Regions from separate parts of the Homo sapiens genome. Here regions 2, 3 and 4 are each reported to be linked to region 1. Evidence: microRNA targets listed by miRTarBase, many of them from high-throughput screens and not tested one by one. Region 1 holds a microRNA gene; each other region holds the end of a gene's coding sequence.
The links. The annotated mature microRNA hsa-miR-30d-5p reads UGUAAACAUCCCCGACUGGAAG and lies in region 1 at 2,079-2,100, shown strand. An mRNA with a match to its seed (bases 2 to 7 or 8) in the 3' UTR can be bound and repressed. Matches are read on the target gene's strand: a 7mer-m8 pairs with bases 2 to 8, a 7mer-A1 pairs with bases 2 to 7 and ends in A, and an 8mer does both.

Region 1 (7,163 bases):
TGCTAATGCTGATAGAAAATTGACCCGCAAATATGTAATGTTTTTGACAAAGATGGAAATCATAAAGCATGCCAAAAATGGTAAACCTTTAGCTTCAGCTATCCCCTCATTAGACTTTACCTTCTTACTGTGTATTATTACAAAGATTGTGTCTAGAAGATACTTTATAATGATAGAAGGTATTTTATAATAGGGTTTCTTATCACATATACTTAATATTCAACTTCTGTACATTTAATTTTCATGTTTCCTCAAGAATATATTATACAAAGTCATAGCATTTGACAAAATTCCTTCATAACTCTGAAGAAAATATTCTATGTATTGTTTGTGTGAGTTAAATACAGTGGCTCTGATAAAAATGTCTTTTGATCAGTCTTTAAAAAAATTAAACTGAGGACAGGAAGGTAAATTAAAGGGGAGATTTGGAGACTTGTGGTAACTGGTTTATTGCAACTTAATGTGCAGCATCCTCATTAGTCAAGTATCATGTGCCTACCTAGGCATGAAATAGCTATTTTTTTCCTGATTTAAATCTGGAAAGTTTCAGTTGTAGTACAGTTTGAATAGTTGTTGTTGTAAATAGCCACTGGACTTTTTAAAAAAGTATTTTTCTTCAAAAACAGTGAAGGTCATCTTGTATCCATAGAGACCACATGTACTTTCCTCATTATTTCCAGCATTATTTATATAATGGGTAGAGTTATTTACAACATTAAACAAAAAGTATTTCAGAGAGCAACCGTTAAATATTATCACAGGGTAAATATCAGCAACTGAAATCCTTTTCTCATAGTTTCTCAAAAAATTTGGTATTAGGAAATTAATAGTCTCTCAGAATTTGTATATTGGTTTTCTTCAGTAGTTATTCTGTAGAGTGTGTGTGTACATATGCATGCTCATGTATGTATGTATGTTCATTTCTTAAATCATTTCATAAATCACTGTGACTTAATTGTGGACTTTAATTGTTTTCATAGTTTTTTTCCCCAAAAGAAGGTTACTTTACATATTTTATTTTATTTTTATTTTTATTTTTTTTGAGACAGGGTCTCACTCTGTCGCCCAGGCTGCAGTGCAGTGGCATGAGCTCAGCTCACTGCAGCCTCCACCTCCCAAGCTCAGGGATCCTCTTACCTCAGCCTCCCGAATAGCTGGGACCGCATGCACCACCACACCCAGCTAATATGTTGTATGTTTTTAGAGGTAGGGTTTTGCCACTTAGCCCAAGGCTGGTCTTGAACTCCGGGACTCAAGCGATCTACCCATCCACCTGCCTCGGCCTCCCAAAGTGCTGTGATTATAGACATGAGCCACTGTGCCTGGCAATTTTACATATTTTAAATTAAAGCAAATCTTGGTTTTTGATGGAATGCAGATTTACTTATATTTCACTTAGTCTTTTTCCTTTCTTTCAGAAAAGTGGTGTGGAAACAAAATGGTTTTAGTATATTGCCTTATAAACAAATTTAAGATCATGAGTTTCTTTTATTATCCTCTTTGTTTTGCTCATTTCCTTGAACTGTACATCCCTAACCTAAATCAGCTGGAGACAGGGGAAGAAAGTGTTAGATTCTTACTCAGTTTAGATCCTCTGCCAGGAAAACCCACTCTATTCATTGTCAACTAAATTAACGCTTTTTTAAATAAAAGGAGTCATTTTTAACAATAACGTCAGGGCAGCAGGCATCCATGAAATGTATGGTCACTGATCATTAGGGTTATCATTCTAATGTGTTTACTATTTTGAAACTCTAGGGAGAAGAAAACTTATTTTTGCATATGTTGGAAAAATGTATCCTCATGTAGGATATCAGGGTAATATCTTTAATGTTTCATACTTACCAAGATAAATTTGTAATGCGTATTTTCTTTTAAAATTAGATTTATTTAGGAGAAATTGCACTTGGTGAACCACTTTCTCTTTAATTATTAGCATTAACTTTATCATTTTTGTTTCAAGATGTCACAGCTATTGTTCAGCACTAGAAATTATATAAATTATTAGCTGAAGATGATGACTGGCAACATTTATGTCTGTTCCTCCTCTTAAATTTCTTGTTCAGAAAGTCTGTTGTTGTAAACATCCCCGACTGGAAGCTGTAAGACACAGCTAAGCTTTCAGTCAGATGTTTGCTGCTACCGGCTATTCACAGACATCCTCTTGATATAATTCTGTCCCGGAGTGGAGTTGAGGAGGCTATAAAATGTGTGGGAAAACCTCAGAAATCTTTAGCTGCATTCTTTTACTGCACTGACAGTGCACGTATTATGATAGTTGAATGTAGGGTGCTCTCCTAATAACAGGATATGCCGTCTCGAGCTTCCCAGACTTAGCGTGCTGCTGCTGGGCCTTAGAGAATTTAGTTAAATAAAAAGTGTCACCGCCTATTCCTGTTTCTGCCCTGTCAATGAAATTTTAGTCTTTATAACCTTTCCAAGTAGGCTGGAGTTTAACATCCCAACAATTCAGGAGACTGATTTTCTCCATTGTAAATTCTGTGGAAGTTCTGGAGAATAATTTCATCACTACCACCCAGCAGTATGCAATCTAGAAATTTCAGCTTTCCCTATACTTAAAAGAGATGTGTGTGCAACATTTTTCTCCGTCCTCTTAGCCCCCCACTTCCTGTTCCCCTCACCCTGAGTGATATTACAGCTCCTAATCAGAACTCTCCTCTAAGAAAAACTGCAAGACGTCAAGCCACTAAGCCTGTTTACATTTGCTAATGGGTATGCATGTCTTTTTATATTAATATTTTTCCTAAGTATTTTCAGATTGTTGCTTTCAGATTTATTGCTTCCTCCTTAAAATATAGCTGCCCTGAAAGCAGCTGTATTGTATCTATTTTTTGTGTTTCCCCACAGATCTGAATAATCCAGGGCTTTTCTCACAGATGACACTCAGTGTGGACTAATTGATAATGTATAATTTTATAGCAACTATTTTCTGAGTTTTAAAAAATTGTTATTTTATTTCTGTTAGTCTTTCAGACACTGGAAAACATTTCTATTTTATTGGCATTTTTCTTTTCAATAAAGCATTGGTTTTTTTAAATCATTTATTTTTATTAAACTGCTAAACATACTATGTTAGGTTCCATACATGATTAAACCACCAAAAGATAAAGGTCTTGCCAATCTAATGTATTTACATGCTTATTTTCTTTGATTAGATTATAAGCTTTCTGAGGTCAGAGACATTAAATCTTGATAATTCTATTTTTTCCTGTTATAAACAGCAAGTAAAGCACCTTGCATGTATAGTACTTTAGTAATGATTTTATATTATCTTATTGCAGCAGTGTCTACTGTTGCCTCTTATCTTTTATCCAGATGAGCAAATGACAGTTTTGGTCATAATGTAGTTACCCCAGATGTATTTGTGCTACAGCTTTTATTTTTTAAATGCTCTTTTGTTAGAGTAGTAGTTTATAAGACTTATTTGGGGATGGGGGTCAGTTGCTTCAGACTCAGGTGGCTTTCCAACTTGTAAATACAATTTTCAGGCTGGATGATTAGCATGCATCAAGCATCCCTTCCTATGAACTCTAAATAAAGCAGATTTATTGCATATTCTGTGGCCCTCTGTTTTAGCACATTGGAAACCTTAGACTCAAATAGCAGTGAAAGGATAGTTATTGCTGAGCTCAGAAGTCTTCCCTGCCAAAGGTAGAATGTAATGTGTTCTGTGGTAATAGGATTATTTTGTTTGACCAGGTGACACTGTTTATTTCTTATGAAAAATTTTGATATACTGCTTTAAAATTTAGTAAGATGGATGCATAATTTATGCAGTGAAATTTGAAAGGTTTTTCAAAATGATAAGGCCAAACCTAAGCTAAATGAGGGGGTAGGCATTCTTTATAATAAAGCTGTTATACTCTGCCCAGCTAGGCCAGTTATCCCTAGATGCTACAGATTAATGGGGCAATCTGTGTTATGTAACATTTGTTCTATATTATTCTGCCTCTAATGAGGTGAATCAAAGACGATGTCAGTTTTAATTCTGGATGCCCTTGCTTCAGTATAGTATAATACATAGGTACAGCCTTTTTTAGTAGTTTTCAGATGGCTTCTTTATGTTTTTATATTGAAGAACCACTAACTTCCCATTGGCCTATAAGGTTAGCAATTGATTATTTATAGCAAATGGCTTGAAATGTTAGATCATCAGTATTTGTCAATAAGCCTGTAATAACTTGTTTCCCTAGCCCTTAACTTAGTGTTGAAGAAAAAAATTGTGGTATTCATTGATAGGACTTAGAAAGCACAGAAATTACTTATTATTTAAGATTTGTTCTACCAATTGATATTTAAAGTAAAACATTTTTAGTTACTGAACACCATTCTGTAAATGACAGTATTTTATCCTGAGTATATGGTCTGAAATGACTTAGGGACAACTTTTTAAAGCAAATAACTAATTACAAAATTGGGTCTTCCAATTTATTTCAAATTAGATGCTTTTGTACAAATATTCTTGGTTAGAAATAGTCATATAAATACACTGTTGGACTTGTTCTCATTGATCTCCACACCTCAGTTCCTTCTACATGAGTCATGGGCTTGAGGTTACCCAGAAATGGACTGTGAACCTATAAACCCCAGCATGCATGTGGTATTGCGTCGAGCATGTTCTGTGATTCCCTTCTACTCTTGTTACAGCTTTATTCATTGGATCAATGTGCATTATTTGCTGTGTGTGCTCAGGTAATATTTTTGTTTCTTTTTTTTAGTTTGAATATCAGTTTGGGCTTAGTTACTTTTTAAAATAAGGCTGTTTCAGATAGTCTCTGCCACACTTTGCCTAGCCTGGTTAATTGTGGGTGGACCCATGCTACATGTTTTGGCATTGCCTTTTTCTTATCTGTACCATATTACAAACTTCCTAGTAATTTGACATTCACTGCTGTCTTTGCTTTAGCTTTCCAACAGGTTTGGTGAAACAGTCCATTGCTGTTCAATATCAGCTTGCATCAGAATTACTTGGAGGGCTTATTGATTAAAACACAGATTGCTGGGCCCTGCAAAAAAAGTTTCTGATTCAGTAGGTCTGGGGTGGAACATAAGAATGTGCTTTTCCCCCCACAGTTCCCAAGTACTGCTGATGCTGCTCCTCTAGGCCCATGCTTTCAGAATCACAGAGCTCATCTTACATTCTTTTCCTGCTAGATATTATGCCCAATTAATACATGAAGTAAAACAGAAAAATCCTTAACTTAAAAACATGTATTAATCCAGAAGTTTGATTATAAAAAGGTTTGTTGAAAATGTGAGACCATTTTTTCTCCCAGAGAAAAAGTATATTAATTGTCTAGCTGGGAGGGGCCTATTTGAATGTGTTTTCAGAGAAAAGCAGAAGAAAAAAATACGGTTGTAATAGAAGTAGTTAAAACAGAAAAGCAGTATGGTTGTAGAGTGGGGTGGCGGGGAGGTATATGTGTATTTAATCTTGAGAACCAATGCTTTTGGAAAACAGCCCGAAGGGACAAGAGACTAGGTAGAGACTGGCGAGGTTCCTGAAAGTCCTGGGTTACCTGTGAAATGCCAAAGATTTTTAAAGTTTGCTGGCAGTGGTTATTATATGTAGTTTTACTTCCAAATTTGAAGATTTCCTCTTCTTTGATGCAAGTGTGTTGGTAGGACCACTGATAATAGTTAGTGGAGATATTTGTGGGAATATATTTTTAATCAGAAAGAATGCAAAAAGAGGGGGAGACATTTCTTTGAGACACCTTAATGACACTGGGAACAGTAGAAGGTGGAAAGAGATCAGAGTGTGGGAAAGATGTGCCTGAGATGAAATTATCTGAATTCTGAATGTGGGGGAGAAGATGAGGAGAGGGTTGAGGGGGAGGAGAGATGACTAAGCTCCTCACAGTGTTTCATTAACTGTCTTTTACCTAAAGGAGGAATCTTCTTAATGAAGATTGGTTGATGCATCATACTGGTCATCAAGTAAGTTCTTATAAATGCAAGTTTGATTGTTTTGAAGGGAAGGATATAGGAAGGCTGGATAATCAGCTACATTTAGATATGGAACACTACAGGATGTCGGCATTTATTGTTGTAAATTCCTTTGGTGAAAAACGTTATCACTTGTTTGTGACTAGCCTGGGCAATATAGTGAGACCTTGTCTCTAAAAAAAATTTTATTAATAAGAAAAATTAGCCGGGCATAGTAGCGTGCCTGTAGTGCCCCCCACTGCCCTGGACACGCCCCCACTTCCAAAAAAACAAACACCCAACTCACTTCTGCCTTTTCCTTGGATTCTACACTTTCTCTCAGGATATCTTTCCGATTGAGTCTTGCCTCATTTATGTGAATGCTGTGCCTGTTCTTTTTTTCAACAGAGTCTTACGTAAAGAACCGTACAAACTTAGTAAAGAGTTTAAGTCCTGCTTTAAACCAAGTTTCAGTTCATGTAAACATCCTACACTCAGCTGTAATACATGGATTGGCTGGGAGGTGGATGTTTACTTCAGCTGACTTGGAATGTCAACCAATTAACATTGATAAAAGATTTGGCAAGAATAGTATACAGAGGCTTGAATTTTTAATGTAATTAATGTAATTAAAGGTTTGTTGGAAATGTGAGACCATTTTGTTCTCCCAGAGAAAAAGTGTGTTAATTGTCTAGCTGGCAGGGATCTACTTGAATATGTTTGCAGAGAAAAGCAGAAGAAAGCATGGTTGCAGTAGGAGTAGTTAAAACAGAAAAACAGTATGCTTATAGAGGAAAAATTACTCTAAATTTATTAAAATTCCTTTAAATTTGTTACTCAATTTAAATTTTTATTGTATCTTTTCAATTTTGCTATAGCACTAACATGACATAAGGCTCTGGGTATTGGGACAAAAGAATGCCCTTGTTTGGTAGTTGGGGTCGGGTTTGTAGTATTGCAGTGTGCTTTAACAAGCATGGGCTTTGACATCAGACATTTGTTGCCATCTGGACTCCACAAGTGAATTTGCTACGGGATTTGGAGGAGGGAAAGGCACTGTTTCCATACCTCAGTGGTTTTCTCATCTGTAAAATAAGTATGTGATTGCATGGATTGACTTACATGATGAATATAAAGTTGTTCATTAGTACAGTACCTGTCATATTAAGTACTCAATAAATGCTAGTTATTATTAATGCTGTGTTGTAGGTGTT
Region 2 (7,163 bases), not on the chromosome of region 1:
ACAGTACATTGTGATCAGTAGTTCTTTAATAGGGACAAATACAGGATGCATGAAAGCCCGGAGATGGAACCCCTAATGAAGGAATAGAAAGTAAGAGAAAGGAGAGAGACACCCAAGCTGAGGCCTGAAAGATTCATTCCTTCATTCAGTAATTTCTTGAACATCTACATGAAGGACAGTATTCTAGGCACTGTGGACCCAGCAGTGAACAAAATAAACAAATCTTTGCCCTCAGAACTTAATTCTAAGTGAAATGTATAATATGTTAGACAGTGATCTATGGAGGAAAAAGTAAGGCTCTGAAGGGGATTATAGAATGCTGGGGCAGGAATGGAAATGTTACAGTTTTTTTGTTTGTTTGATTTAGAGATGGCATCTCACTATGTTGCCCAGGCTGGCCTCAAATTCCTGGGCTCAAGTGATCCTCCTGCCTCAGCCTCCCAAAGTGCTGGGATTACAAGAATGAGCCGTCACTCCCAGCCTGAAGTGGGTAGTCAGGAAGTTCTCACTGAGAACATTACATTTGAGCAAAGACCTGAAGGGATGAGGGAGAGAGATCTATGCAGAGATTTGGGGTTGTAAGTGTGTCTGGCATGTTACAGGAAAGGAAAGGAAAGGAAAGGAAAGGGCGTGTGATGAACAAGATTCCAATATGATAGCTTTCTAAGGGATTTTCAATGATAATTTTGACCATATGATTCTTGCCTTAAATATGGTCTTTAGAGCCTCATCCCTGTAAAATATGACCACATAAGTTGGTGGGGGCTACTTTGAACAGGATGTTTGGAAAAGGCCTTCTTGAGATGGCAACATTCAAGCCGAGGCCTTTAAGATGAGAATGAGCCAATGCTGGAGTAGCTAAGGGAACAGCAAAGGCGAAGACTTGGAGGCAAGAAAGAAGTCAGTAAATGTGAGAAACTGAAATGTGAGAAAAGAGTGGCATGAGATGAGGTGGGAGAGGTGGGCAGGGGTCTCAGGCAATTTAGCTTTTTTTGGCATCGCAGCGGAAATCAACTGAAGGGCTTTCAGCAGAGGACTGACAATCAGATCATTTTACTGGTTGAATTTACACAGGCTTAGCTGTTTACCTAAAGGTGCCAGGAAGAGGGTTTAAAATGGAGCAAAGGGATGAGTGGAACCCCTGTCCTCTTGCCTCCCCTTTGTTCCCTTTACAGCTGGAATGAGATGGCTTGGGCAGGTGGGTTTCCTAGGTGAGAGATGACTCCCACCCAGAGAGCCACCATCTCCCTCTGAGCTGGGGTGAACAGAGTTGACAACTTGCGTCTCTCTGACCTCCTCAAAGTTTCCTGGTTGGATCCCATTACTGGGTATATACCCAAAGGATTATAAATCATGCTGCTATAAAGATGCATGCACACGTATGTTTATTGTGGCACTGTTCACAATAGCAAAGACTTGGAACCAACCCAAATGTCCATCAATGATAGACTGGATTAAGAAAATGTGGCACATATACACCATGGAATACTATGCAGCCATAAAAAAGGATGAGTTCCTGTCCTTTGTAGGGACATGGATGAAACTGGAAACCATCATTCTGAGCAAACTATCACAAGAACAAAAAACCAAATACTGCATGTTCTCACTCATAGGTGGGAATTGAACAATGAGAGCACTTGGACACAGGTTGGGGAACACCACACACCGAGGCCTGTCGTGGGGTTGGGGGACGGGGGAGGGATAGCATTAGAAGATATACCTAATGTAAATGATGAGTTAATGGGTGCAGCACACCAACATGGCACATGTATACATATGTAACAAACCTGCACGTTGTGCACATGTACCCTAGAACTTAAAGTATAATAAAAAAAAAAGTTTCCTGACTGGGTCTGCCTTTCAGACTGTGGGCAGAGGTGAAGGAAGTACATGCCACTACCAGCCCTGAAGGTCTCCTCCCTCCACCCCTTTTGAGTATACTTTTTTTTCTTTTTTTTATTTTGAATACACTTTCAATTAATCTTCCCAAAGATCCTGACGTGCTTCTTCTGCTCCAGAAGCATAGCGGGCTCCCTACTGCCTACAGAATTAAGTTCAAACTCCTGGCTTTGTAATTCAAGGTCCTCTGTGACCATGCTGCACTGTGAGCTCCCTGAGAACTCAGAGGAGTGCTAAGTCCTGGACTAAGTACTTTATACCCATTTTCTTTTTTTATTTTTTATTGTTTATTTTTTTGAGATGGAGTCTTGCCCTGTCGCCTAGGCTGGAGTGCAATGGCAGGATCTCGGCTCAATGCAACCTCCGCCTCCCAGGTTCAAGTGATTCTCCTGTCTCAGCCTCACAAGTAGCTGGGATTAGAGGTGCACGCCACCATGCCTGGCTAATTTTTTGTATCTTTTTTTTTTGAGATGGAGTCTCACACTGTCATCCGGGCTGGAGTGTAGTGGTGTGATCTCAGCTCACTACAACCTCCACCTTCCAGTTCAAGTGATTCTCCTGCCTCAGCCTCCCAAGTAGCCAGGATTACAGGTGCCGCCACCACACCCAGCTAATTTTTTGTATTTTTAGTAGAGACGGGGTTTCACTGTTTTGGCCAGGCTGGTCTCAAACTCCTGACCTCGTGATCCGCCTGCCTTGGCCTCCCAAAGTACTAGAATTATAGGCGTAAGCCACCGCTCCTTGCCAATTTTTTGTATCTTTAGTAGAGATGGAGTTTCACCATGTTGGCCAGGGTGGTCTCAAACTCCTGACCTCGTGATCCACCAGCCTTGGCCTCCCGAAGTGCTAGGATTACAGGCATGAGCCACCACAGCTGGCCTTATACCCATTTTCTTATTTAATCTTCACAATAACCCTCTGAGGGAAATAAAGTTATCAGCCACATTGTACAAATGAGTAAACAGATTCAGACAGGTTAAGAGCATGTTTATTCAGACAGATTCAGACATGTTTATTCATTTGCCCATCCAGCATATACTTTTTGAACACCTACTCCGTTCTAGGTAATAAGGACACAGCAGTGAAAAAATAAATCAGGTTTATTCCAAGAGCCTAGAGCTCACATTCTAGAAGGGCTGACAGTTGCCCTTGTGTTATGGAACACATTATGGAGTTATGTTATAGAGTATGTTGAGTGGTGGTAGGTACTATGAAGAAAAAGAAAACTAGTTAAGAGAAAAGAGAGAGACTAGGACATGCTATTTTCTAAAGGGTGATCCAGAAGGCTTCACCTAAAGAAAACATTTGCACAGAACCTGAATGAAGTGAGTGAGGCCCACAGATAACCCAGGAAGATCATTCTAGAGAGGGGACAGTAAATGCATGCCCAGCAGTGGAGTGTTTGAAGAACAGAGGGGAGGCCAGTGTGGCCAGGACCCAGTGCGTGAGAGGGAAGTGTGGGAGTCAGAGAGCCAGCTGGCCAAGGACTTTAAATTTCATTCTTGGTGAAACGGAATCCCAGGAGGTACGGCATCTGGCTGCTGAGTGGAGGATGGACTGTGGAGGGGAAAGGGGAAGAAGGGGCCAGTCCTGAGTATGAGAAGATGGAAGCTCAGATCTGTTAACTCCTTGAAGGAGAGAATGAGAGAGAGTGAGTGTGCGCGCAGGAGGGGCTTCAGGAGGCACAGGTGGGTTGTAGGGAGGCATTGGGAAGAGGATGTTCCTCAGGTGATGCCCCAGGGAAGGATGGGTCTGTGATAGGCCAACAGGAACATCTGACTTCCAAGGCAGCCAGGAGGCATGAGGAGCCACTGCCAGTGGGTCGCTCAGCAGGGAGCTTGGAGGAGGCAGTGCCCATGCAGCCAGGGGTCCAGGAGACCCCTGCTTAGATTCGCCTGCACAAGCCTGAAGCCCCTTACCATTCTCCACATTTCAGGCTTTTTTCTTCTCTTTAGAAAAAGATTGAAATAAGAAACAAAAACAAATAACTGGGAAAAAATGACTATTAACTATTATCCTCAAGTAAGCCACATCAAGTTCTGCGTGTATCTTTCTTGGAAAAGTAAATTTCACATCCTTGCTGCAAATGGAACATGAAACACTAGAAAGGCTCCAGTGAGAAATCCATCCAAACTCCATGACAGCCACTGTCATTTCAAAAGCCACAGAATGCCCCCTCAGTGGACTTGCTCAGAAGAGGGAATCAGCTACACCTGGGTCTCACTGTAGCCAGCCATGAGATCTTCCCAGGATTCCTGCGCTTTTCACAGCAGATGCCTGGTTCCAGCAGAAAACCTATGTCCCTCTCCGCAAAAGAAGTATGAGTGCTTGGAGATCTGAGATGGAAGAAGTCTCAGAGTCTGATAGACAATTACTGGCATGGTAATACCTGTAAATCGTGGCTTTGATGGATCACGGGGTAGTAGAGTAACCCTTTCTGATTGCCCTGAGTCTTTTGATGTCCCAAGCTTTCAGCCTATTTATTGTCAAGATACCGAAAACTAGATCCCACCTGGAAAAGGGAGACACCCCTGGCTTTGAGAAAGCACCTCGTTCACTCCAAACCCATGCCACATTGCCTCATGAGATGACCTCAAAGCCACGTACAGTTCCCACCAGGACTGGCTGAGATACTGAAGCAGGATGGTCAGGCTTACCTAGAGAGAAGCTCAAGTGAAGATAGAAAATCCATCACAATACAATGTCCAGAATAAGCAAATCCATAGAGATGGAAGGTAGATTTGTGTCATCAGGGACTGGGGAATGGGAAAAATGGAGAGTGACTGCTAATGGGTATGGGATTTCTTTCTAGGGTGATGGTTACACAACTCTGAATACACCAGAAACCACTAACTTCTCCACTTTATTTATTTATTTCTTTATTTGAGGCAGGGTCTCGCTCAGTCGCCCAGGCTGGAGTGCAGTGGTGCAATCTCGGCTCACTGCAACCTCGGCTCACTGCGACCTCCACCTCCCTGTTCAAGTGATTCTCCTGCCTCAGCCTCCTGAGTAGCTGGAATTACAGGCACATACCACCACACCTGGCTAATTTTTGTATTTTTAGTAGAGACGGGGTTTTGCCATGTTGGCCAGGCTGGTCTCGAACTCCTGACCTCAGGTGATCACCTGCCTCAGCCTCCCAAAGTGCTGGGATTACAGGTGTGAGCCACTGCACCCAGGCTTCTGCATTTAAAAGGGTGAATTTGATGATTGCATATGAATTACATCTCAAATCTTTTAATTGCAGCAGAAAAATATTTAGAGTCCCCTGCAGCCACTGAGGGGGACTCTAAAATCTGAACTCCTTTGCTCAACAGCTCACACACCCCGGGGCATAATTTGGGAACCCGGCAGTGTGAAGGAGCCTTTGTCCTGATAAGCACTGCCAGTCTCAGGGGATGCCAGGGCTGTCGGCACTGGACACAGCAATACTCCGTGGCCAGCCCTGTTCTAACAGGCACTGCCCAAAGAAGCAAAAGCGACCACCAGGTGTCTGCTTTACTCTGACTGCCTTGCCAACCTGCAGGGAGAGCAAGGGTGCAGGGTCCACTCAAAACCTCCCACACACCCATTTCTTGGCTCTGTATCTTCAGTATGAATTTCCACAGCTGTGTTAAATACTCCATTGCCCCTACTCTGGGCCAGGCCTTAAGCTGGGTGTTGGGCTGACCCAAAGGCCATTCACCAGTTATGAGCTACGTAACTGCCCATCTCAGTCCCTGACAGCAGCCCCTTCCTTATGGCACCAGGCCTGGAGGCCCATGAGGAGGAGAGAGATGAGTCAGATAAGGTGAGTACTAGTGGGGGAGGCACACGCTGCAGCCAGGGCTCAGGACTAAAGCAGAGGGTGTGGGCTCATCAGTGAGTGATGGGGAAATCCTGCCCCAGGCCTAGCCCAGGCTGCTTTGTGAATCAAACTGCCAGATTCCGCTGCAGTTTTTAAAAACCTAAATATTTATTTATTTGCATTATATTTACAAAGGTGGGAAGGAGACCAAAGGAGACCCCAAGAACACCCCCACACCTGGCTGACCAGGCCCCTTGCACTGCAGAGGAGGCAGACACAGCTGGAAGGAACAGGATTTATGTTGCATACTTGAACTACAGCGAGTGTAAGACTGGTCCTATTTACAGGGCAGAAACACTGCAGGTGGAGCGCGGGGGTGGCAGGGTGGGCACCAGAGTCCTGGCCAAGGGTACCCTTGCCTGCCATCTTCCCCACCTCTCCCAGATGCATCTCTGAGGCCCCGCTGGGATTCTCCGGGGGGAACGAGGCCCACTCACATGATGCTCGCTGGGGTGAAGACAGGGCCCACGCACAGGGTGTCTGTGATCTCCCAGCCGCAGGACAGAGGCTTGCACACACCCTCCACGTCATCCTCCTGTTCTGCAGCCATCAGCTGCCTTCGCAGCGCTTCCCTAGGGGTGAGAGAGGGGTGCTGCAAGTAGCCAGCATGGGACTGGCAGGGCCCTGTACCTGGAGACGCAGCCCCATTGGGCAGAGGGCTCTCACGTGAGCCCGAGCTCAGCTGAGGGCAGGGGCAGGGACAGGCTGCTGACCCCTCCCCAACTGCTTCCTACTCCCGTGTGGTCCCCACCCCTCAACAAGGGAAAGAAATCCACATGTATCGAGCATTTACTACATGCCAGACATCATGCCAGGCACTTATATTATCTATTTGTATCTTCCCAAAAACCCCATGAGGGAGGCATTACCATCCCCGTTGCATTGATGATGTAATCAATCAGTTCCCCAGAGAGAGAAGTGACCTACCTAAGATCACATCCCTAGTAGGTAGTAGAACTAGGACTGAACCCAACTCTCACTCGAAAGCCCACATTCATCATACCCCAGGCTTGGGACTTCAAATAAAATCATATCCCATTCTCTCAAACAATCCCACAAACTGCTTCTCCTCCTACATACCCATGTTGATCAATGGCTCCACTATCAGAGTTGTAAACAGTTGGCAATCTTGTTCCCACACCCAGTTGAGCCCTGCTGAGCCCAGCTTCTGAACATCCTCATGTGCCCCATGGTCTCCATCCCCATGGGTAACACCATTTCAGTCTCCCTGATCTGCTCGTGCCCTCTCCAGACAGTTCTCAGCCAGGACCCAGATTCATCTTTCCAAAAAACAAATCCCTGCCCTTGAGCTGCCAGCCATTTCCCTCTGCTCTCAGGCCCTGCAAGATCTGGCTCTACCCGCCTCTTCCACCCACTCCTGGACACACTGGCCCACACACCTGAGCCATCCACTATG
Region 3 (7,156 bases), not on the chromosome of region 1:
CCTTACGCAGCTTAAAGGATTGAGGCGGGGAAAGGGGGGTTGGGGGCATCCTTGGGTTCGCGGAGCCCGGCTCAGCTCGGGCTGCGATCAATCCTGGAGGAGGGATTCCAGTTTCTACTCCCTGGAGACCGGGAGCATTTCCCATCCCTGAGTCAGGCTGTCCCCCTCCTCTCTCCCATCTGCTGAGTCATCGGCCCCAAGAGTCAGGACTTTTGGGATAGGGCCACTCTCAAAGGAGGGGGATGCTTTGCTCGCAGAAGGACTGGTCCTCCACCTCCCCAAACCCACAGACCTGGGGGACCCAGGAGCCAAGGCCTCAGTCCCTCCTCCCTCGCAGTAACCCAGGGCCCTGGGTCCCCAGCCCCTCCTCCCTCAGACCCAGGACTCCAGGCCCCCAGCACCCCCCTCCCTCGGATCCAGGGGTCCAGGCCCCCAGCCCCTCCTCCCTCGGAACCAGGGGTCCAGGCCCCCAGCTCCTCCTCCCTCAGATCCAGGGGTCCAGGCCCCTAACTCCTCCTCCTTCAGACCCGGGAGACTCCCAACCCCCCCTCCCTCAGACCCAGGGGTCCAGGCCTCCAGCCCCTCCTCCCTCAGATCCTCAGGTCCCCCGAGACCCCAGCCCCTCCTCCCTCAGACCCAGGGGTCCAGGCCCCCATCTCCTCCTCCCTCAGATCCAGCGGTTCAGGCCCCTAACTCCTCCTCCCTCAGACCCGGGAGACCCCCAGCCTGTCCTCGATCAGATCCAGGAGACCAGGCCCTCAGCCCTCCCCTCAGATCTCGGGCGTCCCAGGCCAGAAGGAAGTTCATGGCAGGACTCCTCCCTGCTCCCTACGTAGCCAGCGGGAAAATCCGCGGCCCCAGCGGCGGCCGGGAATCCCCTCTGGAATGACGGTGGGGAAGGGGATGGCCGGGGTCCCCCCGCGGGGCGCTGGGGCCAGTCCTGGGCGGGCGGGGAAAGAAGGAAAGGGGCGGAAACCAGAGAGGCTAAAAATACAGCCAACACTTCCGGCCTAGGGGGAGGGGAGGGGAGAGCAGAGTTTCCAGAAAAACAAGCGGGGACGGGAAACGCGGGGGTGTGAGAGCTGGCCGAGTGCGCGGGCGAGCTGGGGATCGTGTACCCGCGGCACGTGTGCTCGCGCCGTGTGTGCGCCTGGCGCGATTGCCTGGGCCTGAGCGGGCGTGGCCAAGGGCGGCGCTGGCCGTGTGTACCCTGGCCTGCGACTGCGTGGGCGGCGGGCCTGGGCTAGCCGTCATGTGTACCCGGTTGTGTGAACAGTATGTGTGCTTGCGGGTGCAAAGGTGTGCGCCTTGGCATCTGGGGCTGCGAGAGCCTGTGTGCCTGGGTATGCAGTGGGGGAACGTGAGGGACACGAGTGTGCCCAGTTTCCTGTGAGAAGGCTGTGTGCATACAATCCCGCATGACTTGGCTGTGTGAATCAATGTGTGAAACCGCCTGTGTGATCGACTGTACCGTGTGTACTTTGGCCATCTCTGGGTGTGGGGTGGATGCTCTGTTGTAACTGTACTGCAATTTGTCTCTGAGGCGGCATTCTTAAGAACATGAGATTTTCATCCCCACCTGCATATCTGTGCGTAGCTCTGAGCCACTGTGGGATCTGCAGTGACTAAGTGTGTGTAACTCCGCGCAGGTGCCTGGGTGAGGGAATGACTGCCCTCCCCTGTGACTGAGGCTGTGTGCACACACAACTTTGTGTGTGTGTGTTGCTTTGAGACAGGGTCTCGCTCTGTTGCCCAGGCTGGAGTGCAGCCTCGACCTCCCAGGCTGAATCGATCCTTCCACTTCAGCCTCCCAGGTAGTTGGGACTAAAGGCACGTGCCACCACACCCGGCACACACATTTGAAGCTGTGTCAGCATCTGTGACTCTGCAGCTGTGGCCGTGTGCAAGGCCTTTGTGGCTCAGTGTGTGTAGTCCCTGGGTGTGTGAAGTGTTCACATATGTCCACGTCCTTTGTCGTGGGTGTCTGAGACTGCATGTGCAGACCACAGCAGGCCGGCGTCTGAATGCAGTTCCTGTGGCCCGAGTCACAAGGCAGAGAAACCGATGAACTTTGGTTTCTGACGTCTACAGCCTGCGTGATGGGGAGAGTAGCTGGCGAGCTCCCCCCTCCATGTCACTGTTCTTGTGTCGGCCTCTGTGGGCAGAGCAGACGTGCAGACATGAGTACCTGAGAAGCTGGGGCAGCGCCGATGAGGCTGCTTCTGATAGTGCTGGGCTAAGGACAGGGCTGAGTCAGCCTGTGATGGGCAAAGTCTGCGATGGGGTGAGAGATAGCTTATCTGGTAAAGTGGTGGTTAGAGGGTTGTTTGTGTATTCATGTGGCTGGGTTGCTCCCTGAAAGTATGTTTGTGGGACTGTCAATGGGATGGGGTCCCTGGGGGCACCATGATTGTAGGATGGTGGGTTAGCTCTGCAGTGGGGCAGACATGCTGTGTGCTGGAGTCCCCACGGTCTGTTTTGTGGTGGCTGTGCACCTCACGTACACCCCGTCCCTGGAGCATGCAGTGTGCACCAGACTGTGTAGTCTCCCTCTGGGTTTAGTTACCTAGCAAACCCAAGTCCTCACCAAGGCCCTCTGTGACCTGTCTGGATTTCCTCTCCTATCCCTGCTCCCTCATTGTGCCCAAGCCTCCTTTTTATGTGTTCCATAAATCCCAGCACATTCCTGTCCCAGGTCCCTGGCACTTGCAGTTCCCTCTGTCTGGAGCACTCTTGCCTGGATGTGTGGATGTCCCCAAGCTCATTCCCTCTCCTTCGGGGCTGCTCTAATATCGCCTTCTCAGTGAGGCCTTCCTTGACCTCTGTCAAGGATTAAAACAAAAATTAAAAGGCCCACTGCAGTGGCTCGTGCCTGTGCCTGTAATCCCAGCACTTTGGGAGACCGAGGCGGGCAGATCACTTGAGGTCAGAAGCTCAAGACCAGCCTGGCCAACATGGTGAAACCCCGTCTCTACTAAAAATACAAAAATTAGCCAGGTGTGGTGATGCACGCCTGTAATCCCAGCTAGTTGGGAGGCTGAGGCAGCAGAATCACGTGAACCCAGGAGGCGGAGGTTGCAGTGAGCCGAGATGGCGTCACTGCACTCCAGCCTGGGCGACAGAGTGAGACTGGTCTCAAACATATATAAACAAGAATAAGAAAACCCTTGTCATCTATTTAATAATAAATACATGGAACATATATAAACCATAATGAATGCTCACGAAACCACAATCCAACTTAAGTTCTCAAACTTTTAATGTTTTTCAATAAAGTAACACGATTCTCCATATGCAGATGTTACATTTCATGTGTTAGATTTGCTAAGTATGATTTAATTATACATTTCCATTTTTTGATCTTCAACTTAATTACACTTAAAAAATGAGTATTTTGCTGGTGTAAACACCTCCACTTCTTTTTTTAAAAAAACAGGGTCTCCATGAACCAAGCTGGAGTGCAGTGGTGCGATCACAGCTCACTGCAGCTTCAACCTCTCAAGCTCAAGGCATCCTCCCACCTCTCAGCCTCCGAGTACCTGGGAACCTGGGCACGCACCACCACACCTGGCTAATTTTTGAATTTTTTGCAGATAAGGGCTTTTGCTATGTTGCTCGGACTGGTCTTGAATTCCTGGGCTCAAGCCATCTGCCTGCCTGCACCTCCCAAAGTGATGGGATTACAGGCCTGGGCCACTGTGCCTGGCCCCAACATCTCCACTTCTGATCTCATTTTTCTGTTTTCTCACCATCTGATATATTTTACTTTTGTCACATTTACTGTCTCTCACTAGAACATCAGCTCCACAAATACAGGCCTTGGGCACAAGATACCCAATGTGTTTGCTGAGTGCAACTCAGTGGTGCCCACCTCCGCCCTGTGCCTGATAGATGTGTATCCATCACCCCACCACCCACTGAGTGCCTCTGTGGGCTCCCTGGGTGTGGTTTTAAGCATTGGTAGGCCCTGTATCATGGGTGCTGGGCTATCAGGCCCCCCCACCTGTGTGTGATGTTGTGTTGACACCACCTGGGAGGGCCGACAGTCCCTCAGTCTTGTGTGTGCGCTCATGGACCGACATCTCCACCACTGCTGGTGGGCTCTGTTGGGGAAAGGGTTAGTTGTCTTCAGTTGTATGCAAGATAACTGCATCATGTTGGGTGGGACTATGACTATGTTATCGTACTTATTTGGAGATTAAGTGTGGTTAAGGAGATGTGTGAGGGTGCCCAGATGACAAGGACTAGATGGTCAGTTTTTTATTTTTTTTGAGACAGAGTCTTGCCCTGTCGCCCAGGCTGGAGTGCAATAGTGTGATCTTGGCTCACTGCAACCTCTGCCTCCCAGGTTCAAACGATTCTCCTGCCTCAGCCTCCCGAGTAGCTGGGACTACAGGTGTGTGCCACCACACCCGGCTAATTTTTTGTATTTTTAGTAGAGTCGGGGTTTCACCGTGTTGGCCAGGCTGGTCTCGAACTCCTGACCTTGTGATCCGCCCGCCTCGGGCTCCCAAAGTGTTGGGATTACAGGCGTGAGCCACCGCCCCCGGCCCGATGGTCAGTTTTATGTGTCAACTTGGACGGGCTACAGTCCCAGTTATTCAAACACTCATCTAGCTGTCGCCATGGAAGTGTTTTGTAGATGTGATTAAAGTCCATAATCAGTTGACTTTAGATAAGGGAGATTATCCTACAAAATCGGGGGATTGGGTAAAAAACTGATTCAATTAGATAAATGGGCAAAACTGAGGCTCCCCTGAAGGAGAAATTCCTCCTAGGGACAGCGCTTCAGCCTTCCTTCTTGCCCTACATGCTCGGGCACTTCAAGGAAGAATAAGGGGAGGAATTTCCTGGGACACACAGCTGGCCATTTCCCAGTTTTCCAGTGTGGGGACTTGGGCTCAGCGTGAATCACAGAGGTATCCATGGTCCTAGGGTTTCCTTGCAGACGTGGGGTCCAGGACAGGAGGCCATGGAGTGCGAATGTGGGAACCATGGCACAGAAGATACTGGGTGGGGCAGTTCTCCAACCAGGCTGAGTCACTTGAGGCTTTCACACCCCAACATCTGAGCCTGGGCTGGTAGCTCCGCCCTGCACTTGCTCAGGCCTGAAGGCTGAGGCTGAGCTTCCTGAAGCTTCCAGGGAAGCAGGGAGTCTGAGGGGGCACTCCCTCCTTGAAGCCCCCTCCCCAGTGCCTGCTTCCCGGAGCTGGGGCTCAGGCGCCTGGGTTCTTCCCCAGGACTGATGATTCACCCCGGCTGGGGCCTTTTCACTTCTCCTTTGGGGCTAAAAATACTGGGACCCAGGCATCCAGCTGGGCCAGCCTTGCCACAAATTGCACAACGCCCCTCACTCAAGTTCCGCTGACGCAGGCTTGGGTGGGGGCCTGAGTTGCTCCCTGCTCAGACCTGTGGAGCTCAGAGCCTGGGCCCCTCCACTGCTCCTCTCCTAGGCCAAGGACCCTGGGGTCTGGGCTGACATGCGAGCCGCTGGGGGACTCTGGGCTTGGCTGTGGCCCCTGGAAATGAAGTCCCTTCCCTTAGCCCCAGATAACCCAGGGGTGCTGGCCCCCTGCATAGACACAGAGTCCCAGTTAGGAGCTGGGGATAGAAGACAGCTAAAGGGGACTAAGAGAGAGAGGTCAGAGTGAGAGAAATAGGACCATGGGGAGAAACACATTAACAGGAACAGAGAAACAAGGGAAAAAGAGACAGGATGAGAGAGACACAACTGTAATAGAGACACAGAGGAGTGGCACACAGAGACCACCTCCCAGCTGGAGACAGTCAGGAAGGACTGAGGGAGAGGGGACAGCCAGGGCTCCACACCCAGGCAAGAATGGGGGAGGGCCTGTGGAACAGAGAAGTCATCAACACACACAGTTCAAAGTCTACCCTAGGCTAGGAGGGGGAGCAGGAAGAAGGGGCAGGGACGCAGGGGCCCGGCCTGCGAGCTCCCTGTTGGCCTCTGCTGCCCCCTGCTGGCTCCCGCTGCGGTGCTCAGGCAGGAAGAGAGGAGGCTGCTGTGTTTAGGCCCAGGACGCTCTTCATTCCCTTTGCACACCACCCACCAACCACTGCCTGCCCCACTCCCTGTCCCCCACTTCACAGAGTGCCCCCAGGGCCAGCAGGTGGTGCGGGTGTCTTGCCCGTGACCTTGTTGGCACAGTCCAGCAGGGCGGTGTGAATGTCCTTGGCACAGGAAATCTGGGCTTTGATGACCGCCAGGTACTGTGGGTAGGGGAGGCTGTCAGGCTGCACTGCGTCGGGCTTGGTGGCTGTGGGCACCAACGTTGGAGAGTGCTTGGCACTGTCACAACTCTGTGACAGGCACTCATGCGCCAGGCGCTGTGGACAGGCAGGCAAGGGGACAGCATCAGCTCCACCCGAGGTCATTCTACCCCACCCCAAGGGCCAGCTGGGGGTTGTCGGCTTGGCCTCTGGATTTCCCAGGTCTTAGAGTCAGAGGTTGGCCCTGCCAGTCATTTGCTGGGGAACCTGGGGGCATGGCGGCTACTCTTCTCTGAGCCTCAGTTTCCTCCTTTGGAAAACGGGTTTAATAACCACCTCTTCCTACCTCATAAGGTGAGAACAGTGAGAGCAGGTGTATGAGACACAGGCACGGGTCCTGGCACACTGTTTAAAGTGCCAAGAACTGTTAGCTACTATCATTGTTACTGCCCTGGCTCCAGGCCTGGTGTTGGCAGTGGCATCTCACCCCTGGTTTTCTGCCTGCTTCTCTGGCTGCTCTAGGTACTACTTTCTTTTTTTTTTTTGAGATGGAGTTTCGGTTTTGTTGCCCAGGCTGGAGTGCAATGGCACGATCTCAGCTCACTGCAACCTCCGCCTCCCAGGTTCAAGTGATTCTCCTGCCTCAGCCTCCCGAGTAGCTGGGATTACAGGCACCCGCCACCACACCCGGCTAATTTTTTTTTTATTTTTAGTAGAGACAAGGTTTCACCACATTGGCCATGCTGGTCTCAAACTCATGACCTCAGGTGACCGACCCGCCTCAGCCTCCCAAAGTGCTGGAATTACAGGCATGAGCCACCGCGCCCAGGCTTTTTTTTTTTTCTTTTGAGGTGGAATCTCGCTCTGTTGCCCAGGCTGGAGTGCAGTAGCACGATCTTGGCTCACTGCAACCTCTGCCTCCTGG
Region 4 (7,000 bases), not on the chromosome of region 1:
GACAGCTCAGAATCTTGTGACGCAGTAGTCAGGCATCTTCACACCAACTTGAATATTGAAGTGCAGTTGTGTGGAACTTGGATCATCTTAGTTGATTTTGTTTAAATTATGATTCCACATATGACAAAAATCCAGATCCACTAATTAAAATGAGGGTTTATGTCTATGAATAATCTCCTGTGGGTTTAATCTCATAACATTCTAGTCTAAACAGTTGGCTTCACTTCATGATGTCTGCTCAAATCCTTTTTCCTTTAAAGGATGTTTATTTAATAAGAAAAAAATGTAAAATGATAGATAATAAAAGCCTTACTAGGTTCTTAAAAGATGAACTATCCATATTTCAGTAAATGAATAATTAGTCCTTCCTCTTTGGGCACCTTGGAACAGATTCATTCAGATAGTGGGTGGAAATGTACATGTATGGTAAGCATTGCTGGCCTAGTCACTGAAAAATGTAAACTCTTATTTTTGATTGCAGGTGGAAGTTAAGCCATATGTCTTGGATGATCAGCTGTGTGATGAATGTCAGGGGGCCCGTTGTGGGGGGAAATTTGCTCCATTTTTCTGTGCTAATGTTACCTGTCTGCAGTATTACTGTGAATATTGCTGGGCTGCTATCCATTCTCGTGCTGGCAGGGAATTCCACAAGCCCCTGGTGAAGGAAGGCGGTGACCGCCCTCGGCATATTTCATTCCGCTGGAACTAAAGGATAACTGCAGTGCTCATTTTCAGGCCTCAGAATAAGTGCACTCTTCTGTTCATTCTGACCCCTTCCTCAACCTCTTCACGCTGGCATGTCCTTTTGTAGCAGTCTGTAACTTAACTATAGTATAATGAAAAGAATGACCTATAATATAGGTGTTTTGTAGATTCTTGTGTCACTGCAAACAATATGAACTCCTTTTTCGTATTGCCATCGGGTTGCATGGAAGTTTTATTCTCTTGTTTTGCTGGAAACCAAGAGGATCCAAACTTCCTGCAACATTTTCTTAGAGGAGAGAGAGAAATATTAAAAGAGAAATGAAACAATAGAGTATTTTGGGTTTTTAATTAAATTATTGTTAATAATATAACATATAAGAATACTTTTATTAAAATAACCATGCAACAATAACACTATCGGTCTATCTGACAGTTTTTCCCCCAGGGAAGTGCTTTTGCCTTTTCCTTTCTTTTTTTTTTTTTTTTCATCTTTTTTGTCTCTCTCTTTTTTCCATCCCTTTTTAATTTTTTTAACAGCAATGGAGGAAGTTAACAATTTTTAATGGAAAGAGCATGTTAGAGCAAACAAATGCATAAGCAAGACTGAGCAGCATTATAATTAATTTTCAGGGTTTTGAGGCTGAACATAATTTCATTATCCCTCAAAAAGTTACCACCACATCAGAAAAAATAAAAAAAAAATAGTAAAGTAGGCAGAGCTAGGTTTATTTTCTCTTAAACAATTTTTAAAATTCAGAATGTAAAAATTGGGTAAATTTACTACTGAGGGGAGTGCACTTATTTATTTAACTTACTTATCTGGTCAAAGCCCCAGGAAACCTACCAAAGCTAGAATTAATGACAACTGGTGGGAAACCTAGCATTTCCTCTCCTGAAGAATAAATGTATAAATGTTATTTTTGATGTTTATATATAAACTCTATATCCTAATTTACTAATACTCATCAGATGTCAGCCTTTGCTCTCCATTTTGACGTTAAAAAACAACAACAGATCTAGAGATACCTCAAGGATATCATTTTTGATTTTGTGTTACAGTACACTTGTAGCCAAAACTGGAAGACAAAACCAATATATAATTTGGCTGCTGATTGGCTTACTTTTAGATTTAAAGTTACTTTGGGTATCCTGTAATTTAGTTGTAACATAGAAAATGAAAAAACAGTTAAAAAAAGTGAAGTAGTTGCAAAGTGTTTTGCACTGTTGAACTAAGTAACTGTGTAAATCTGTGCAAAGGTACGTATGTTTATCTTACTCTTCCTATAAACTAAAATAACATTACAGTTTCCGAATTTAGCATGGGACATAGTCAGTGTTTGAAGTGCCAACTTCATCAAGTAATGCATGCTTTATTATAAATAAAATTCTAGCTTTGAAAGGCGTTATGTGTTGAACAGTATGCTTCAGGGGTAAATTTAAAATAGTCTCTTGAAGCCCTAGTCATGGAAGTAACTTTTATTTTAATTGACATTCTCTTATTAAATGCCCTATCCATCATTAAAAGGTTTATTATCAGTGGGCAAAACATGAAATAATATGATCGAATGGCAATCTTGCTAGTTGCGCTACCTAACAGTACCATCTTGGATCCTTCAAAACCAAAGACTTGCCCCAGCACTGCTGTGGAACCACCTGGCTTATGACCCCTATGGATGATCTTTAGGAAAAGCAGCCCTTTACTTTTAATACAGGCTTTAATGAACTATACCTGTTAAGTTCCAAAGGTCAAAATGGAGGCATTTGCTGTCTAATATTCAAACATAGAAAGGGAGCTGCTTTTAAAGAATTCCCTGCAAATACTGAAAGCAGTCATGCGAATGGAGGGTGCTCTTGTGTAGCTGGTCAGGGACTTTTTTTTCTTTTCTCCTGAACTACATGATTCTAATTGGAATGTTCATTTGCCTCTTTTTACTCTTTTAAATGCTTGTAGGTGGCTTGGGGTGTGCTATCGTGCTGTTCCTACTCAGTAAACAGGTGTGATGAGTTAACAAGAAATAACACTGTTTGAGAACTAGCTTTGAATAATAATTTTTCCCTTTGTACATGACCTGCTGAATTTCGGTACAGTGTTTTTGTAGCTAACTTATTTTGTCATGCACATAATGTATATTTGTTATGCACTACTTTTGTATATCTTGTTTTTCCAACAGTGAACATTTTTAGGCACACTTTTCACTGACGGGATATCTCTTTATGCAATACCTCAATTTTTCATATTGCAAAGAGTAGCTTTTTGTACTTTTATTACTGAGAGATCTTCATATACTTCATTTTTTAATATAAATAATTTTAATAAATTTTATTTTCTTATATTCTGCTTTTTATACATTTCAGTGCTCTGCATACATTTTAAATTATGAATGTCGTGCACTGGCAATGCTATTTTAGAGTCTGCAGAGAAGAGAAAGCATGTTGCTTAAACATCCTTCCCCAGCACCAGCTATTGGTGTACCTATAATTTAAGAAATAGTCTATGTAAAGTCACAAATTAATGAAAAAAATTCGCATGAAAATGACAGATAACACTGTAGTTCCTAAAAAAAAAATTAAATGCATAAGCATAAGGTAGAAATTAAAATAACAAAATTGTCTACAGCTTCTTACTAAGTTTTTAAAATTATTCATAAAATGCAGACATTTTTGGTGAATGTTTAGCCATTTTTAATATTAATAAATTGATGTTAAGTGTTTGATTCAGAGATGTCTGCTCTTTTAAATTATATATAAGGAAAAAAAATAGCCTGCCTTGGGACAGGTGTGTAATGTTAGTGTGCATGACTAATGTAAGAAATTGTTATTCTACTAATATTTACTTGTGATTGTGTGACAAGTGTGTTTACAGATTATTGGTTACACTTCAATTTACAGGGCATAAACAATGATTATCTATTACTCTGAACTTTATGATTACATGTTCTTCAGATTACATGGGATTGTAGTTGGGAGTTACCATGTAACTCAAACATAATTAACATGTAATTAGTTTACAGATTGTAGGGCATCACTTCAATTCACCAAGCATGTAGTTCTAGCGCACTAGCATGGCGCCAGCCATGTACTTACAATGTAGTTACAGAGTAATTACATGGTGATTTTTGCAATGTAAAATAAAGTGTTTCTGATTATTTTCTATGTAAAGGAACCCTCTCCTTTCCCCTTCTGGTCCCTGCGCTTTGGTATAATATATATACTTCTCCATACACAGACCTCTGCAGAATGCAAAATAAAACTTGCAGTGAATGAATTTAGCATTTTATGAGAGTGCTGTTGGAAAGACTTGATAATTCACCCCTTTTGTTTTGAAGAGTTGAATCTTCTGTTAAAAGGTGATTTAAAACTTGAATGTGATGAATTGTGGCAAGTTAACTTCAAGTTATGTGCAATACTTATTTCAAACTTTTGAAAGATCTTTGCAGTGTAATTCTTTGTTTTTAATTGCAGACATTTAAAAATGTCATTTTCTACTGTTAAGAGTAATCCTCTTTCTTGCTGGTGTTTCTAAAGAAAAGAATCAGAAATCAATCTTTCTACTAATGTAAATTTGAGATTATTTTTAAAAATGGAATAAAAGAGGTTTTGGTCATTTGCTTTATTTTATTATTTTAAAGCTACTGTGATTGATAGCATTGTAAGAATCGGGACAATATTGTATTCAACTGTTTTATTTTTTATATTTTTAAAATTTAAAGTATAATTAGTTTTTATAATTTTCATCAGATTTTTGTTATATTTTTTGGAAGTGAAACTTTTAGCAAGTGGGTGTCTAGTTTTTACTAATCCCTAATTTTTTTTCCAGTGTATTGCTCATATTATCAGAAGGAAAAGTTATTTAAGTATGTCAGTTAATTGTACTACTTGGCTGAATTTCCATATAGTTTTTACTGTGTATGGGGAGGTTGTAGTATTTATTATAGCATTTTAAATAAGGGTAATTCATTTTTTATTAAAGTCATTTTCACGTTAAGTTCCTATTTTTGTATGTTCTACTCTTAAGTTATATAACACAGTTCCTTTTTTAAAAGAGTTCATTTGTTGAAGTGCTAGTGAAAAATTAATGTTATTAAATAGTTTGCAAATGACTATTTATACCAGTATGCATATAATTTTTAAATATTTGTAATGTGAGATGTTGAATGAATAAAACTTTTAACTCAGATTTCTTTTAATATACTTATTTCTTTTTAACACAAGTAGATGATGCTTTCTTGACTGGGAATGTAACATTTTAAAATATTAGGAATATACTGTTCAGCTAATGCAGCACAAACCAATAGGAAAAAATCTTCAGTCATATAAGTACTGTGGCCAGTGTGCATTCTTATGTAAGCCTATAAGCGTCGGTGGGTGGTTGTGTCTTTGGCCTGTACTGTTAGTTCACCTGCTGCCTGCCCTGCAGAGTTCTTTTTATTTGTAGCCTTCAATATGTATACAGGGAGTAAGCCCAGGATCTAAGCATTCAGTTATCAGTTGAAGGCCAAATGCCCAACAAAAGTGAAAAACCCAATGTTTAGTTAATAATGAAAGTCCGTATCTGGGAGGTTCAGTTTTGAGTCTTTGTCAATGAATAGTCTTGATTTGTGGCCACACTACCAAAGGGCTTGAAAACAAGTCTCTTTTGACTTCCAATTCCCAGTTCCTCCATAGACCTTAATGTCATAGGATACGGTGTGTGGGATTATAATCTCTATGGCATGTCAATTGAAAATATTATCTTTGATTTGATCCATTAATCATGTGGACTACCAAGTGCTGTAATGTGTTAGTATTTATATTTTAAACTGCATTCTCAAACTTTTAACATAAGGATTTATTATAACAAAATATAACACTGAGAATATCCTGTTTTGTCAGATTTAATATCTGTTCTTTCTTGAGTATAGTATTCTCAAGACTAGAAGAGGTTCTTGTCCTGAGAGAAATGGACTATGAGATCTTTTGCGTCTAAGTTGTCTTTCCCAACAGGCAGCTCTTCTAACTATAGAGATTACTGAGGGTAAGGGCAGGCTGGACAGCTTCCCCTTTCTCTCATCTGGCAATTCCCAAACCTTACGTTGAGCATTCAATGAAGGGCCTTGAGGAAACCCCAGGGATGGGACACTGGAGATGTGGGTGGCATTTGGTTATCAAGTCTATAATATTCCTAGGCATTCTGGGATGGTTTCACTATTTTAAGAAAAGAAAAAAAAGATAGCCCAAGCATATTTAGTTTATTTTAGGAAATGTTTATTTCAGGTAAGTGAGATATCAATGATATGTGATATAACAACTCTATCTTGAAATTACATAGGTGCATTGCTTTGGGTGTTTTAAATCACAGAATGGTGTGTCTGGAAAGGGTGTAAGAGGCTTCCTGGGCTATATTTCTTCATTCACTGATTGCCTAAACCTACCCAACGAGGAAAATTCTTTTTATTTTTATCTTTTGTTTTTACTGTCTAACCAGATGAATAAACAGTGGAAATTCTCTACCACACTCTTAACAATCAAGTCATTTCATAACCCCTTTTGGTAATGGGTGTTTGTGTCCACAGCTAGATCAGAAAGTAAGTACTTTTTCTAGGGATTTTTTTTTTTTTTTAAGTTTGGGAAATAGTTTGATCAAAAGTCATGGGGAAAGTAATCTCTGATTTTAAAAATTGAAGAATACTGAAGGTGTCAGTGAGTTAGAAATTTTTAAGGAGTAATTATTTTCTGAAATGTGTAATAACCGAATAATAAACAAGACAAAACTCTAATATTTCAGACTGTGATCTTCAGAGGACTAGGATAGTCCTTTCCACAAGAAAAAGACAAAAAAAAATAAAGTTTTACCATTAAATACACTTAGAAAATGGGTCACCTTGTTTCTTGCAAAGTCAAAATAATGCACATTTGCACATTAGCTTATTAAGACTTCAAGAAATTCTACAATGAAGAAATCTTTTTTATTTTATTTTATTTTATTTTATTTTATTTATTTATTTTTTTGAGATGGAGTTTTGCTCTTGTTGCCCAGGCTGGAGTGAGTGCAATGGTGTGCTCTCAGCTCACTGCAACCCCTGCCTCCCGTGTTCAAGCCATTCTCCTACCTCAGCCTCCAAAGTAGCTGGGATTACAGGCATGCACCACCATGCCCAACTAATTTTGTATTTTTAGTAGAGATGGGGTTTCTCCATGTTGGTCAGGCTGGTCTCGAACTCCTGACCTCAGGTGATCCGCCCGCCTTGGCCTCCCAAAGTGCTGGGATTACAGGCGTGAGCCACCGTGCCCAGCCAGAAACCTATTTACTTTGTTG

Region 2: miRTarBase lists AZIN2 as a target of hsa-miR-30d-5p. The part of its 3' UTR that is shown has no 7-base or 8-base seed match.
Region 3: the mRNA of MED29 is a reported target of hsa-miR-30d-5p. Seed matches in the 3' UTR shown: 8mer at 3,402-3,409.
Region 4: miRTarBase lists CPEB4 as a target of hsa-miR-30d-5p. Seed matches in the 3' UTR shown: 8mer at 3,560-3,567 and 7mer-A1 at 3,709-3,715.

The regions. Positions count from the first base shown.
Region 1 is chr8:134,799,856-134,807,018 of GRCh38, reverse strand. MIR30D (microRNA 30d) reads left to right here and starts at 2,074; the gene lies at 2,074-2,143. MIR30B (microRNA 30b) reads left to right here and starts at 6,412; the gene lies at 6,412-6,499. It also overlaps a transcript of ZFAT not described here.
Region 2 is chr1:33,119,199-33,126,361 of GRCh38, reverse strand. It overlaps AZIN2 (antizyme inhibitor 2), which reads right to left. Exons shown (of 12, transcript NM_052998.4): 12 at 2,870-6,318. The coding sequence ends at 6,180. Among named protein-coding and RNA genes, the nearest start is that of AZIN2, 42 kb to the right of the region's middle.
Region 3 is chr19:39,396,649-39,403,804 of GRCh38, reverse strand. MED29 (mediator complex subunit 29) reads right to left here. Exons shown (of 4, transcript NM_017592.4): 4 at 3,164-6,348. The coding sequence ends at 6,106. Among named protein-coding and RNA genes, the nearest start is that of ZFP36, 6.6 kb to the left of the region's middle. RefSeq lists enhancers at 1-502, 1,763-1,982, 5,435-5,484.
Region 4 is chr5:173,955,429-173,962,428 of GRCh38, forward strand. It overlaps CPEB4 (cytoplasmic polyadenylation element binding protein 4), which reads left to right. Exons shown (of 10, transcript NM_030627.4): 10 at 482-6,552. The coding sequence ends at 709. Among named protein-coding and RNA genes, the nearest start is that of C5orf47, 30 kb to the right of the region's middle.